Regions from separate parts of the Homo sapiens genome. Here region 2 is linked to region 1. The links come from fine-mapping of genetic effects on gene expression. A gene starts in region 1. The other region holds a variant in brackets. All regions are shown on one strand. Distances are from middle to middle.

Region 1 (5,359 bases):
TCTGGGACTGCCTTTCCTCAGCCCAGAGCAAAGAAGAGTATTTCCATCAGAAAACAAGAAAAGCAATGTAGGGGCTGGGCGTGGTGGCTCACACCTGTAACTCCAGCACTTTGGGAGACCGATGTAGCACTTAAGACCAGCCTGGACAACACAGCAAGACGCTGTCTCTATGAAAAAAAAGATTTTTTTAAAAAGTAATGTGGCCAGACGCAGTGGCTCACGCCTGTAATCCCAGCACTTTGGGAGGCCGAGGCAGGTGGATTGCTTGAGGTCAGGAGTTGGAGACCAGCCTGGCCAACATGGTGAAACCCCATCTCTACTAAAAATACAAAAATTAGCCGGGCATGGTGGCAAGCACCTGTAATCCCAGCTACTTGGGAGGCTGAGGTGCTACCATGAATTGCCTGAACCCAGGAGGCAGAGGTTGCAGTGAGCCGGGATCACCCCACTGCACTCTAGCCTGGGCGATAAAGCAAAACTCCGTCTCACACACAAAAAGAAAAAAAAAATAATGTGGAGCGAATGACTGAAGGTCCCAAGGTCTCAAGGCTTCAGGCTCCTCAGCTGGGAATGGGGACGGCCTGTCTCCTAGGGCTACTGTGAAGATTCAGTGAAATCCCAACACGCCCCCAACCCCACAACCTGCAGTCCCTGCACATGGAAAGCAGCAAAGCAAGCCACAGGTTCCAGCACTCATCAGTATTAACAACATCCAGTGTCAGATACCCAGGGCAGAGCTGGCTGCAGGACACTGCCTTCTATCTGTCAGTTCCCTTCACACAATGAACACTGCTTACTGCGTGCCCAGGCTCCACAGTGAGCGCTGCAGAGGCCGCAGACACGAGACAAGAGAGAAAGACGTCTCTCTCAGGAGCCTGGTGTCAGCTGCCAGCAAAGAATGCCAAAATCAAAGATGACTTCTGTGGTTTACCAGCACTACGAAGAAAGCACAGGATAAGAAAGGAGTGGCTATGAGCTATGCCAGGCCATGGCAGCCGGGGGCCTCTCTATGAGGTGACATTGCAGGCTGGGGCCTACAGAAGAAAGGAACTGGAACCCCAAGGGTGATGACCCCAAATGAGAGCTGGTCTGGCTGTCAGTGAAGAGAACGGAGCCATGCGTCAAAGTGAAAAGATGCATCCAGAAGACCTACCCTTGCTGCAAAGAGGCAGCCGGCCTCATTCTGCAGCCACCAGGCAGAAGGCATGCCCATGGGAGGGGAGGCCCTTCTGCATCTTCTGGCTTCCTTCCCCACCAGGCCACTGTCAGCCAAGTTCAGCTGCTCCATTCAACCTCCCATGAGAGCTGAAGCAGCATGAGACAGGGGACAGGCTCTCATCACTGTGCCCAACCAGGACGGTGGGAACAGATAACCCTTCTAGAAGCCTTTCCATCCCAATGATTAAAAGAGGAATGGGTTAGACCACAGGCTACAGCTCACTCCTGGAGCCGGATGCAAGCCTGAAACCTGACGATAAAAAAACACGTATTAAACCCAACAGAATTTGGATGGCAACAAACACCCCAACAGACAACCCGTTCGTGGGGTCAGTTATGGCCCACGTCCAACTCAACAATGACACCACCTATCTGGCACCACGCCACAGCAGACCTGAGCCCCCATTTAACCCTCATGAGCACAGGGCGCTGTTCTGCGGGTGCTAGGGGAGTCAGGCATCCACTCTCCTCCTCCACCTTCCCATGTCCAGTCCTTGTCTCTGAGCCTCCTCCTCCTTCACCATCAACTCTCTGACTGCTGCCTGAAGACAGTCACCAGGTCCTCAACCCTTACATCCTTTCTCTCTGGAGTGCCCCTCAAAGGTCACTTACTCCTGTGGCTTCAAGAGAAAGGACATAGTAGAAAGAGTGGAGTTAGCCAGTCCTGTGAATCACACACTGGGCTGCCCTCGCAAGCTGGGTATCTTGTGTAAATGCCTCTCTCCCCCTAGTAACTGGTTTCTGCCTCAGTGGGACATGGGACCAGCCCGCCCGCTGGGGGCCTGGCAATGGCAGTCTAAGGACACTCCCTGGTCCTGCCAGTCCAGCCTTCAGCCATTTGCCCAAGCTGTCTTCTCAAACAGACCTTATCCCATCCCGCTGGGTGTGGGCTGGGGGAAGGGTGACAAGTAATACAGGGGTAAACTGCGGCTGAGAAAGGTCCAAAAGGGGATTAGGTCCTATAAGCTAAGTGGTGAGAAGGAAAGACCAGACTTCATCGTGCATGTGTTGTGTGCATGGGTGTTCTCCCTCTACGTTAATAACGCCTGCCCTGCCCGGGGAAGTGGGCACTGAGCAGAGCAGGGGGCGACTCACTCCTCTGGATGCCCACGCAGCTCCCTAGGGCGCCCAGCAAATGGCACCCTGGGTGGGAACTGGCTTCTGGTGCGCACTAGACCTCCAACTGCCTGTCTGGTTCCCCACTGCGTCCCCAGATCCTCCCGCAGAGCTGGGGACAATGCGATTTCTCAAAACACGTAGGATGAGAGCGCACGTCCTTCCTTTCCACGTGGAGACAAGAGAATGGAGATAACCAGATCCCTCTCCAGCACCGGAGAACGAATTCACAGCTGCAGGCGTAGTGAGCCAAGGCCGCCCCATGCTCTGAGCTGCAGGCCCCTTTCTACAGGTCCCGTCCCCTTCTGATCCCATCAACCCGAAGGCCCACGCGTCACCCCCAGAACCCCGCTTCCGTCGTGACCACGGCGCACACCCCCGTCGGCAAAGGGAGGACGACGACCCCCGCTTGCCGGACCTAGCGGACAGGAACGCAACCCCGCCAGGCTCGCCCGCAAGGGCCACACGCCGCGCCCAGGCCCCCGCCCCGCCCCGCCGGAAGCTGGGGTCCGCAGGCCGGAAGCTGAGGCCGCGAGCCGGCCGCCGGCGCGCGCCCGCCCCGCCCCCGCCTCACGCGACCCGGGGACACGAGGGAGTCCGCGCGGGACCTGGGAAGACCGCCGCGTTCTTGGGAGGCCCTCCGCGCCCAGGCTGGGTCGACGACCCGGCCCCGCAAGCCGAGGGCCGCCCGCGCTCATGGGGGGGCTCACTTACGAGAGCTATGGTCGCCGTCGCCATCTTGCGTCCGTCGCGGCCTCCGCGCGCGCCTCCCACTCTTGCTCCTTCCGCTGTCTCGCGCGATCTGGGTGCCGGTGCACGGAACTCTCGCGAGGAAGGAGGTAAGAACGCGCTTCCGGGGCGGGGAGGAACGGTAAACGCCCCCGGGAGGGGCGACGGAAGGGGCGTGCTCTTGGCCGGGCGAGGGGCGTGGCCCGCGCACCTCGGGCGTCTAGGGGCGTGCGCCGCGGGACTCGAGTCGGGCGTATCTCTCCGCGTGGCCGACGCGGGCGTGCGTAGTACCCTTCGCCGCCCGTCGCCCTTGCGGCCACTGCTACGCTTCTCTTCTCTGCCTTTTTTGGAGAAAACGCTGTCGCGTGCGTCGTCCAGAGGCTCTCCCCCAGGAGGCAGGCGAAAGAGCGGGGCCCTCCTGGGCTGGAGGAGTCTCGGGTGATGAAAGGCCCGCGTGTTTCAGGCTGACGTCGTGAGATGCGTCGTCCCCGCGTCGCGACATCCCTGGGACCGGGAGGCCCCGTTCAATTGGCAGCTTTTTCTCCTTCCAGGGAACCGATGACCCTAGGTTGGCTGACATCAGTCGCTAGACCCGCAGCCCGCAGGCCCCGTTAGTCCCTGAACTGGCTTTCATGGCCCAAGGTGTCTGTCAGTACTGCTGGGAAAGCTGCCTGTCCTGGACATTTGCCATCTGCTGCACCCAGTCCCGAGACCCCAACTCGGTCATCCGAAGAAGCCACATCTGTAAGCTCAGGCACCTTCAGCTGCCTAAGGCCACAAGGCATCCCGGGCAGGCCTCCTTTCAACCCTGGGAACATTTAGAATTTAATACAGACACTTCTACTTAAATAGGGCAGAATATTCCCCGCCTCCCTCCTGAAACCTTCCAAAATTATAGGAAAGGGGTTTTATAAAGACAAACCCTGCAAGGGCAAAGAGCTGGGATATTGCAGAGCTTAAGAAAGGTGGACAGCGAGAGCTACTCCAGCCCACTTGGCTATGGAGGCCAGTGTCTGAGGGTCGTGGGTGAAAGCACAGCTACAGAAAGGAAACCCCAGACCTCTGTCCCTACCCACCGGGGCTGGCAGGCACTGCAGTGTCTGAGACGTGAGCTCCAGGAGAGGAGCTCTGAGGCCCTGCTCAAGCAAGGCCCTGTCTGAAAGCCTGGGAGTAAGTGAGACTCTGGGTCCTACCCCTGCCTCCACCCCTGGGCTGGGTCTGACCACCCGCATGCCATCAGGCTTCTCAGAGAAGAGGGCTCCTCTCTGCAGCAGCTCCTAGCTCAAAAGAAAAGACTGGCAGGGCACCTAGGGGTAGAGTGTTGCCCAGTAGAATGGCCCAGCCAGATCCCTGGCCTCGAAGCTCACCAGGTCATAAGCCCCAGCCACTAAAAGCATCTCACTCTTCAATGCAGCTGGACAGCCCAGGATCACCAGACACCTGAGAAAGAAGAAAAGGGACTCAGAAGAAACAGAGACGATAAAGGAAGCCGAAGAAAAATGAAAACTAAAATGCCATTCTCAGTCAATAAAAAGGAACTGGGGGCTATAGAGAAAGAAACCTCGGGATGAGAAAGAGCTCTTAGAAATAAAACATGAGGGGAAAGTGAGCAATTCAATAGGCTTTTAAGATGAAGTCTTCCAGAATGTATAATGACAGAACCAGATAGCTGGAAAACAGAATAGCAGTAACACAGGTGGGTGCTCTTAGGGCTAGCCTGGCACACAAGGCCTCCACAATGGAGGGGGTGGATGGGAGGTGGGGGGCTGGTCTGCCACCACCACCAGGGGAAGCCACAGGCACCACCCTCTGGGGACAGCTTCCCTTGGCAATAATGTGCACGCAGGATGCATGGTGCCCAGGACTGTTCTTACACACATTCATTCATGGGATCCTCACAACCCAGTGCTATGCAATGGATACAGCTGTTACCCCATTTTTACTGATGGGCAACATCACAAGGCAGGGAGCAGCAGTAGAATGGCTCCAGAGCCTGTGTTCTTGCCACCACCATGACTGCATCTCAAAAGAGAAGTCCAGGTCAGGCACAGTGGCTCATGCCTGCCTTCCCAGCACTTCAGGAGGCTGAGGCAGGAGTATCACTTGGGCCCAGGGGTTCAAGACCAGCTTGGGCAATATAGTGAGGCCACGTCTCTACAAAAAGTAATTTTAAAAAACCAGCTGGGCATGGTGGCACACGCCTGTAGTCCTAGCTACTAGAGAGGCTAAGGTGGGAGGATTGCTGGAGCCCAGAAGGTGGAGGTTGCAGTGCCCTGTGATCACACCACTGCACTCC
Region 2 (5,359 bases), 36 kb before region 1:
AGGATACCAACTATGTGGACACGGTGAACCCGGAGCCCCTGAGGCCGGAGACGATGTGGCTGGCTCTGCTGGGGGCTCTGCGGTGAGGCAGGCAGGGTGACAGGTACACCCCACCCCACCTCCCTAGCCCCACCCTGGCCTCACCAGCCTCATGGGGCAGGTATGGGAAGCCGCTGGTGTTCGACCTGCGAGAGGAAGACCTGTTCCCAGTCGTGCAGCGGCAGCTGGAGGCGGTGCAGGAGAGGTACCTGTCGCTGCTGCGGCCCACGGACGGGCCTGAGTATAGCCCCACGCAGTTCCAGGAGCAGCGGCTGGAGCACTTCCGCCTCTTTTTCGTCACCAAGGTCCAGTGGCCGCCAGCTGAGCAGCTGCAGGTGCTGCTCCCAGTGCGCGTGCAGCTGCCAGGCACAGGCCTCTAGTGCTGGCCCCAGTCCCAATAAAACGTGTGCCCCGGGGCGCGGTGCTGCATCTGTGCTGCGTGCGTGGGGGCAGCGGTGGCGTGTGCCAGTCCAGGACTCCGGCAGTCCCGGGCCCCGGCCGGCGGACATGGGTCTGCAGGCACTTGGGGGAGGCCCTGCTGGGGATGGGCAGCCTGCCCGGCCGACCCGTGCGCAGTGAGGCGCAGCGGGAGACGTGGGAGGGACGGTGAGGGTGCAGCCCTCGGAGCTCAGCCTCGCCTCGGAGGGCAGGAAGGGTCTGTGCTAGTGGGTGGGGGATGGACAGGCAGACGGGAGGTAAAATGTAGTCAACTTTATTCTCCTTAAACCACAAAATAGAGTCTTTGGTTGTACAAACATCACTAGTTACAGTCTCGCCGAGGTCTCGGCTGGGGTGGGGCAGTTAGTTAGTCACAGGCCAGAACTCCTGTGGGGTCTCTTTAAAATGCTAACACCCAGGTTAAAAGACTTGGGGCAAGGGTGGTGCTGGAGCTGGCAGGGCCCCCACCCCAAGTCTGGGGGAGGTGCCTGCTCCTCTAGGAGGGCACAGGGCCCAGGCCACGGCGCCCAGGCCTTACGGGGCGGCGGCTGCTGCACAGTGCCACATCTTCAGGGCCCACAGCGCCGGGTGAGGGCCTGCCCAGAAGCACCAGAGCCACTTCTCCATCCTCCTCCTGCGGGCCTGGAGGGCAGGGACAGGTGGGCAGTGAGCTGAGGGCAGCTGGGCTCCTGGGAGCTCACCCCAGCCCGGCCCCAACTCACCAGGGCTGGGAGATGGTTCCAGGGACCTCAACTCCTCAGCAAAGTCCGGTGACTGTGATGGGGAGAGTGTTGGTCAGGCCGGTGCCAGCCCTGCCCCAAACCACCCAGGTGGACGGGTGGGCTCCCAGCCCTGAGGCCCACAGAGCCCGGCTGAAGGGGGAGGGGGGGTGAAGAGGCAGGGCCACGGCAGAGCGTGGGGAGGCCCTGCGGGAGCGGATGGGGGCGGTGGCAGGCACGGACAGGGTGGCAGGCATGCAGAGGCCTGGAGGCCAGGTACCTGGATGTCATAGACAGGTCTGGAAGAAGGCAGGGCCGCAAAGGCCCTGTAGTCAAACTTCTTTCCAGACAAGGGCTTGAAAGGACAGCGTGAGGGGAGAGGCAGAGAGTGAGAGGAAAGGGGGGGATGAGGGCCACGGGGGTGGGGGCAGGCCAGACCCCACCCCCATGCCTCGGGGGTGAAGGGAAGGCATAGCCACCGGCTCCTCACCAGGCGTCCCGGGGAGGTGCTGGTCTGGGGGCCGAGGTCTGGGGGGACAAGAAGCGGGCATTGGAAGCAGCCCATGCGGCAGGCTGACCCCCCCGACCTGCCCTGACCCACAGACCTTCCACAGGGGTGGGCGACGGGGTGGGCGCAGGGGAAGGGGCCTCGGCCAGTCGCTCCAGGGGCCCCCGCGTGCCCCGGCCTTCCTGGGACCTGCTGAGGACCATCTGTGCTCGGAGAGCGTCCTGTTCCAATGACTTCATCCTGCAGAGAACAGCGGGCAGGGGTGACTTGGGGCAGGAGCAGGGACAGGCAGCAGGGCGGGGTGGCGACCCCACACAGGGGCTCACCTGGCTGCCCTCCACAGCGCACGCTTCTCGGCCTCCAGGGCCCGGAGCTCGGCAGGGGACAGGGCACGCTCGGGTGCCGGTGGCTCCGGACTCTGCACGCGCAGCCGCTCCTGGTGGCGCCGTTCAGCTTTGGCCGTCCGCACCGGGGCGCCACCTCCCAGGGGTGGGGGGGACGCCGGGCTCTGCCTGGGGAAGGGACAGGACGTGCTGTGGGGGGCAGGGGCACGTGGGGTGAGTAGGGGGCGTCTGGTGGGCGGGTGCTCACCTTGAGGTGGGGCTCGGGCTGGCCCAGGGTGGCTGCTCATCCTCCTGTTCCTCCTCGCCCAGCGTCTCCCCGTCCAGGGCGAGCCTCGCTTCGGCCCCAGCCTCTGCCGCCTCCCGCAGCATCTGCGCTCTCTTCTGCTGTAGTTTTCTGGCTGCCGGAGGGCAGGGTGGGTCAGGCCAGACCAGCCGAGACCCAACCCCCACCCCACTTCCGTGCCCCTCACCTTCCTCCTCCTGCATCTTCCGCAGGTCGTCAGCACCCACCAGGGACACGCGCTTAGGGGGGCCCTCGGCCTGGGGCACGCGCACCTCCAGCTCAAAGTACTTCTGCCGCTCCCGGAAGGACAGCTGCTCCGGGGAGGCTGCAGGCCCAGGCGTGGGGGGCTGGGGGGAGCGGACCTTGAGGTTTGGCTGGCATTCCTCCGAGATACTGGGGCCCCCGGGCACCCACCCCAACCACGCGCAGCAGGGAGGCGTGCTGCCCCCACACACCTGGGCAGGGGCATCCTCAGGCGGGTGAGAAGTGGGCACGGCCGCGAAGGCCCTGTAGGCCTGCTTCACATTGGCGGGCAGCTCATCCGGAGAAGGCGGGGAGGGCGGCTGGGGGGTGGGGCTCTTGTGAGCTATGCTGGGGCAGCTGTCGGGGCTGCAGCTGTGTGCAACTCACCACCGGCTGTCCCCCCGCCTGTCCCCCCGCCTGCCTTTGATCCCCACCCACCATCCTGCTGGGGAAGGAGGCTCTGCCACCCCCACCCACGGGACAGAGCACTCACGGAGTGGGGACAACCTCTGCCCCTGGGGGCTGGGGAGCCCCTTGGCCAGGCCTGAGCCAATGGCTGGATCACCCCTGGTTTTGTCTAAAAAAGGCAGGTGGGGGCGGCGGGGGCAGAGGAGAGCAGGATCAGGGGTTTAAGGCAAGGGACGGGGGTAGAGAGGGGGGTGGGAGAGACAGAGAGAGAGAGACCGACCAACCTGGGTGGGGCTGACATCTTGCCTGTGAGGGGCTGAGCTGGGGCTGGGTCTCATGGGGGCTGCCACCTCCACCCCCACGTGGCAGTGTGTTGGGAGGTGCCAACAGTGGGGGGGCAA[G/C]GACCCCCAGACAAAAGGCAGGCAGGGATAAGGTGGGCCCTGGGAGGTGTTGGGCCTGAGACACTGACTGGGGTCTCAGGAGCTTGAGCCCCTCCAGGAACAGCACACTCAGGCCCCCCACCCCATCGCCAGGCAGCTCTGGCCAGGAAAGCGTCCCTGGCCTTCCTCACACAGGAGGCCCCATGGTAGCAGAGGGAAAACCGGAGTCAACAGCACCCCACGATGGCCCCTGACCCCCCATCCCTGGAGGAGGGGCCCTGTGCACAGCGGCCATCTGCCCTGCCCTCCACCCACCATGGGGCACACCCGTTAACTTGGGACACTCACCTGCTGGCCACTAGGGGAGCAGGGAGATTCAGCCATCTTCCCTCCAGCTGCTCCAGACGGTACCTGGAGGAGTAGGCAGTGGGTGGGGTGAGGATGGGCAGGGCTGTGGCCCCCGACCAGGAGGGACTGGGGGCCCTGGGGCTTGCCTAAAAGCCACAGCAGCTCTTCAGTTCCCCAACCTGACTATAGCCCAGGGGATGCCCCAGACACTCGGTCAGCACGGAGGGGCTCGTCCCCGTTCCCACAGGATGCGGGGGCCTGGGCTGGGCAGCTGCTGTCTCCATGGCAGTGTGCTGGCTGGAGCTTTGCAGGAGAGATGGGAGCAGACAGGACAGCCGGAGAAGAGAGCAGGGAGGGCTCGGGGGAGGGGCCAGAGACAGAGGTGATGGTGGGGAGCCCCTACTTGTGGTGTGCAGCCCTCAGGGCTCAGTGGCGCCCTGACTGCTGCCCCCATGACTGTGCTGTTGTTCATGAGGATGAAGGGCCTCCCGGAAGCCTCCCTCTTGGCGCTGCCCATGGCCAGAGGAGGCAGGGTCAGTACCCAAGAGCCCCCGAATGCGCTGCCTCAGATCCAGGCCCTGCCTGGCCCCTCACCACCACCCCACCGCTTGGGCAAGGGCCTGCAGGAGCCACCCCTCGGCACTCACGTTCGGTGGGGCTGGTGGGGCGCACCCTCTGGGAGGGTTATTTGTATCTCTAAGGGGAGGGATGGGCCTGCACATCCTCCTGCCTGTCCCCAGCACCCGCCCCTCCAGCTGCTCCAGCCTGTCCTCCCCTTGGGGACATGTGCCTGCCCAATCCCCCAGGAGCCTCTGCCCCCACTCGCACCCTCTGGGGCTGGGCAGCCCCAGCAGCAGCAGGTGAAGCTCTCGCACCGCCACTAGAGGGATGCCTCGGCCTGTGTCACCCATCCGCAGCTCAGGGTGTGTGGGTGGGGCAGCACCAACATGGCTTGGGTTGAGAATGAGGGTGATAAGCATGTGCCAGGCTGGGGTAGCCTGCAGGTCAGACGTGGCCTCCTCCCACCCCAGCCCCCGCCCAAAGGTTCCCTCCCGGATGGCCCTGGCGTTTGTCCTGGGGTGGCCGATGAACAGGACAACAGGACGGAGGTGGGGGGCACTGCACACTGGGCACTCACCCTCTGCACGCTGCCAGCGCTGGGCACGGCGGCCAGGGCGCGGTAGTCCAGCTTCAGGGGCTGCAGACCCCGACCCTGGGGGCAGAGTGAACACAGCACTAGCAGGGGTAGCTCCGTGGCAGCACCCGGCCAGCACAGGGCAGGAGAGGGGGTCCTGGGGGTTACTACCCAGCACCCCACAGGCAATGTGCACCCCGCTCCAGTGCCCTGATGTGAGGGGGTGGGGCGACCACACTCACTGCGGCTTCTGTGGCCTCGGGCCCCCAGTGCAGGGTCTGTCCAGGCAGCTCCTTCTCCTGTGAGCAGAGCAGAGCAGACCCGTCAGGCACCACCGGCCTCGGGCTCCCTGGCCCTGGGGCTGCCGGCTGCAGGCACCTCTGACCTTGCCTGGGCCCTCAGGGCTCAGCTCCCGGTCGATGGAAGAGATGCTCTCCAGGCTGTTCCGGTGGCCGATGCCTGCCGCAAAGGGGTTGGCAATGACACCTGGGGACACCTGAGAAGAGGGGTGTGG

Direction of the effects. Alleles are on the strand shown, and positions count from the first base shown. SD is a standard deviation of normalised expression in the study named.
For the expression in breast of the gene that starts at base 3,084 in region 1, allele G in region 2 goes with a lower level than allele C (small effect, 0.16 SD a copy in GTEx).

What was found. PIP is the estimated chance that this variant, and not a neighbour inherited with it, causes the effect.
Region 2: its variant is the best candidate, but not a certain one, in a credible set for the expression of PUF60 in breast (GTEx, PIP 0.85).

The regions. Positions count from the first base shown.
Region 1 is chr8:143,826,232-143,831,590 of GRCh38, forward strand. PUF60 (poly(U) binding splicing factor 60) reads right to left here and starts at 3,084. Exons shown (of 12, transcript NM_078480.3): 1 at 3,049-3,084. The coding sequence starts at 3,072. It overlaps LOC107986985 (a long non-coding RNA gene), which reads left to right and starts at 3,049. Exons shown (of 3, transcript XR_001746138.2): 1 at 3,049-3,173; 2 at 3,615-3,807; 3 at 4,478-5,359. It also overlaps a transcript of NRBP2 not described here. RefSeq lists a silencer at 2,802-3,371 and enhancers at 3,156-3,855, 3,176-4,375.
Region 2 is chr8:143,790,190-143,795,548 of GRCh38, forward strand. It overlaps IQANK1 (IQ motif and ankyrin repeat containing 1), which reads left to right. Exons shown (of 14, transcript NM_001381874.1): 13 at 1-82; 14 at 161-456. The coding sequence ends at 419. It overlaps SCRIB (scribble planar cell polarity protein), which reads right to left. Exons shown (of 37, transcript NM_182706.5): 25 at 5,231-5,341; 26 at 5,088-5,144; 27 at 4,849-4,923; 28 at 3,711-3,773; 29 at 2,787-2,894; 30 at 2,519-2,678; 31 at 2,296-2,446; 32 at 2,031-2,216; 33 at 1,802-1,944; 34 at 1,687-1,724; 35 at 1,477-1,551; 36 at 1,200-1,251; 37 at 736-1,119. The coding sequence ends at 974. Among named protein-coding and RNA genes, the nearest start is that of MIR937, 20 kb to the right of the region's middle. The variant G/C (reference allele first, on the strand shown) is at 3,384.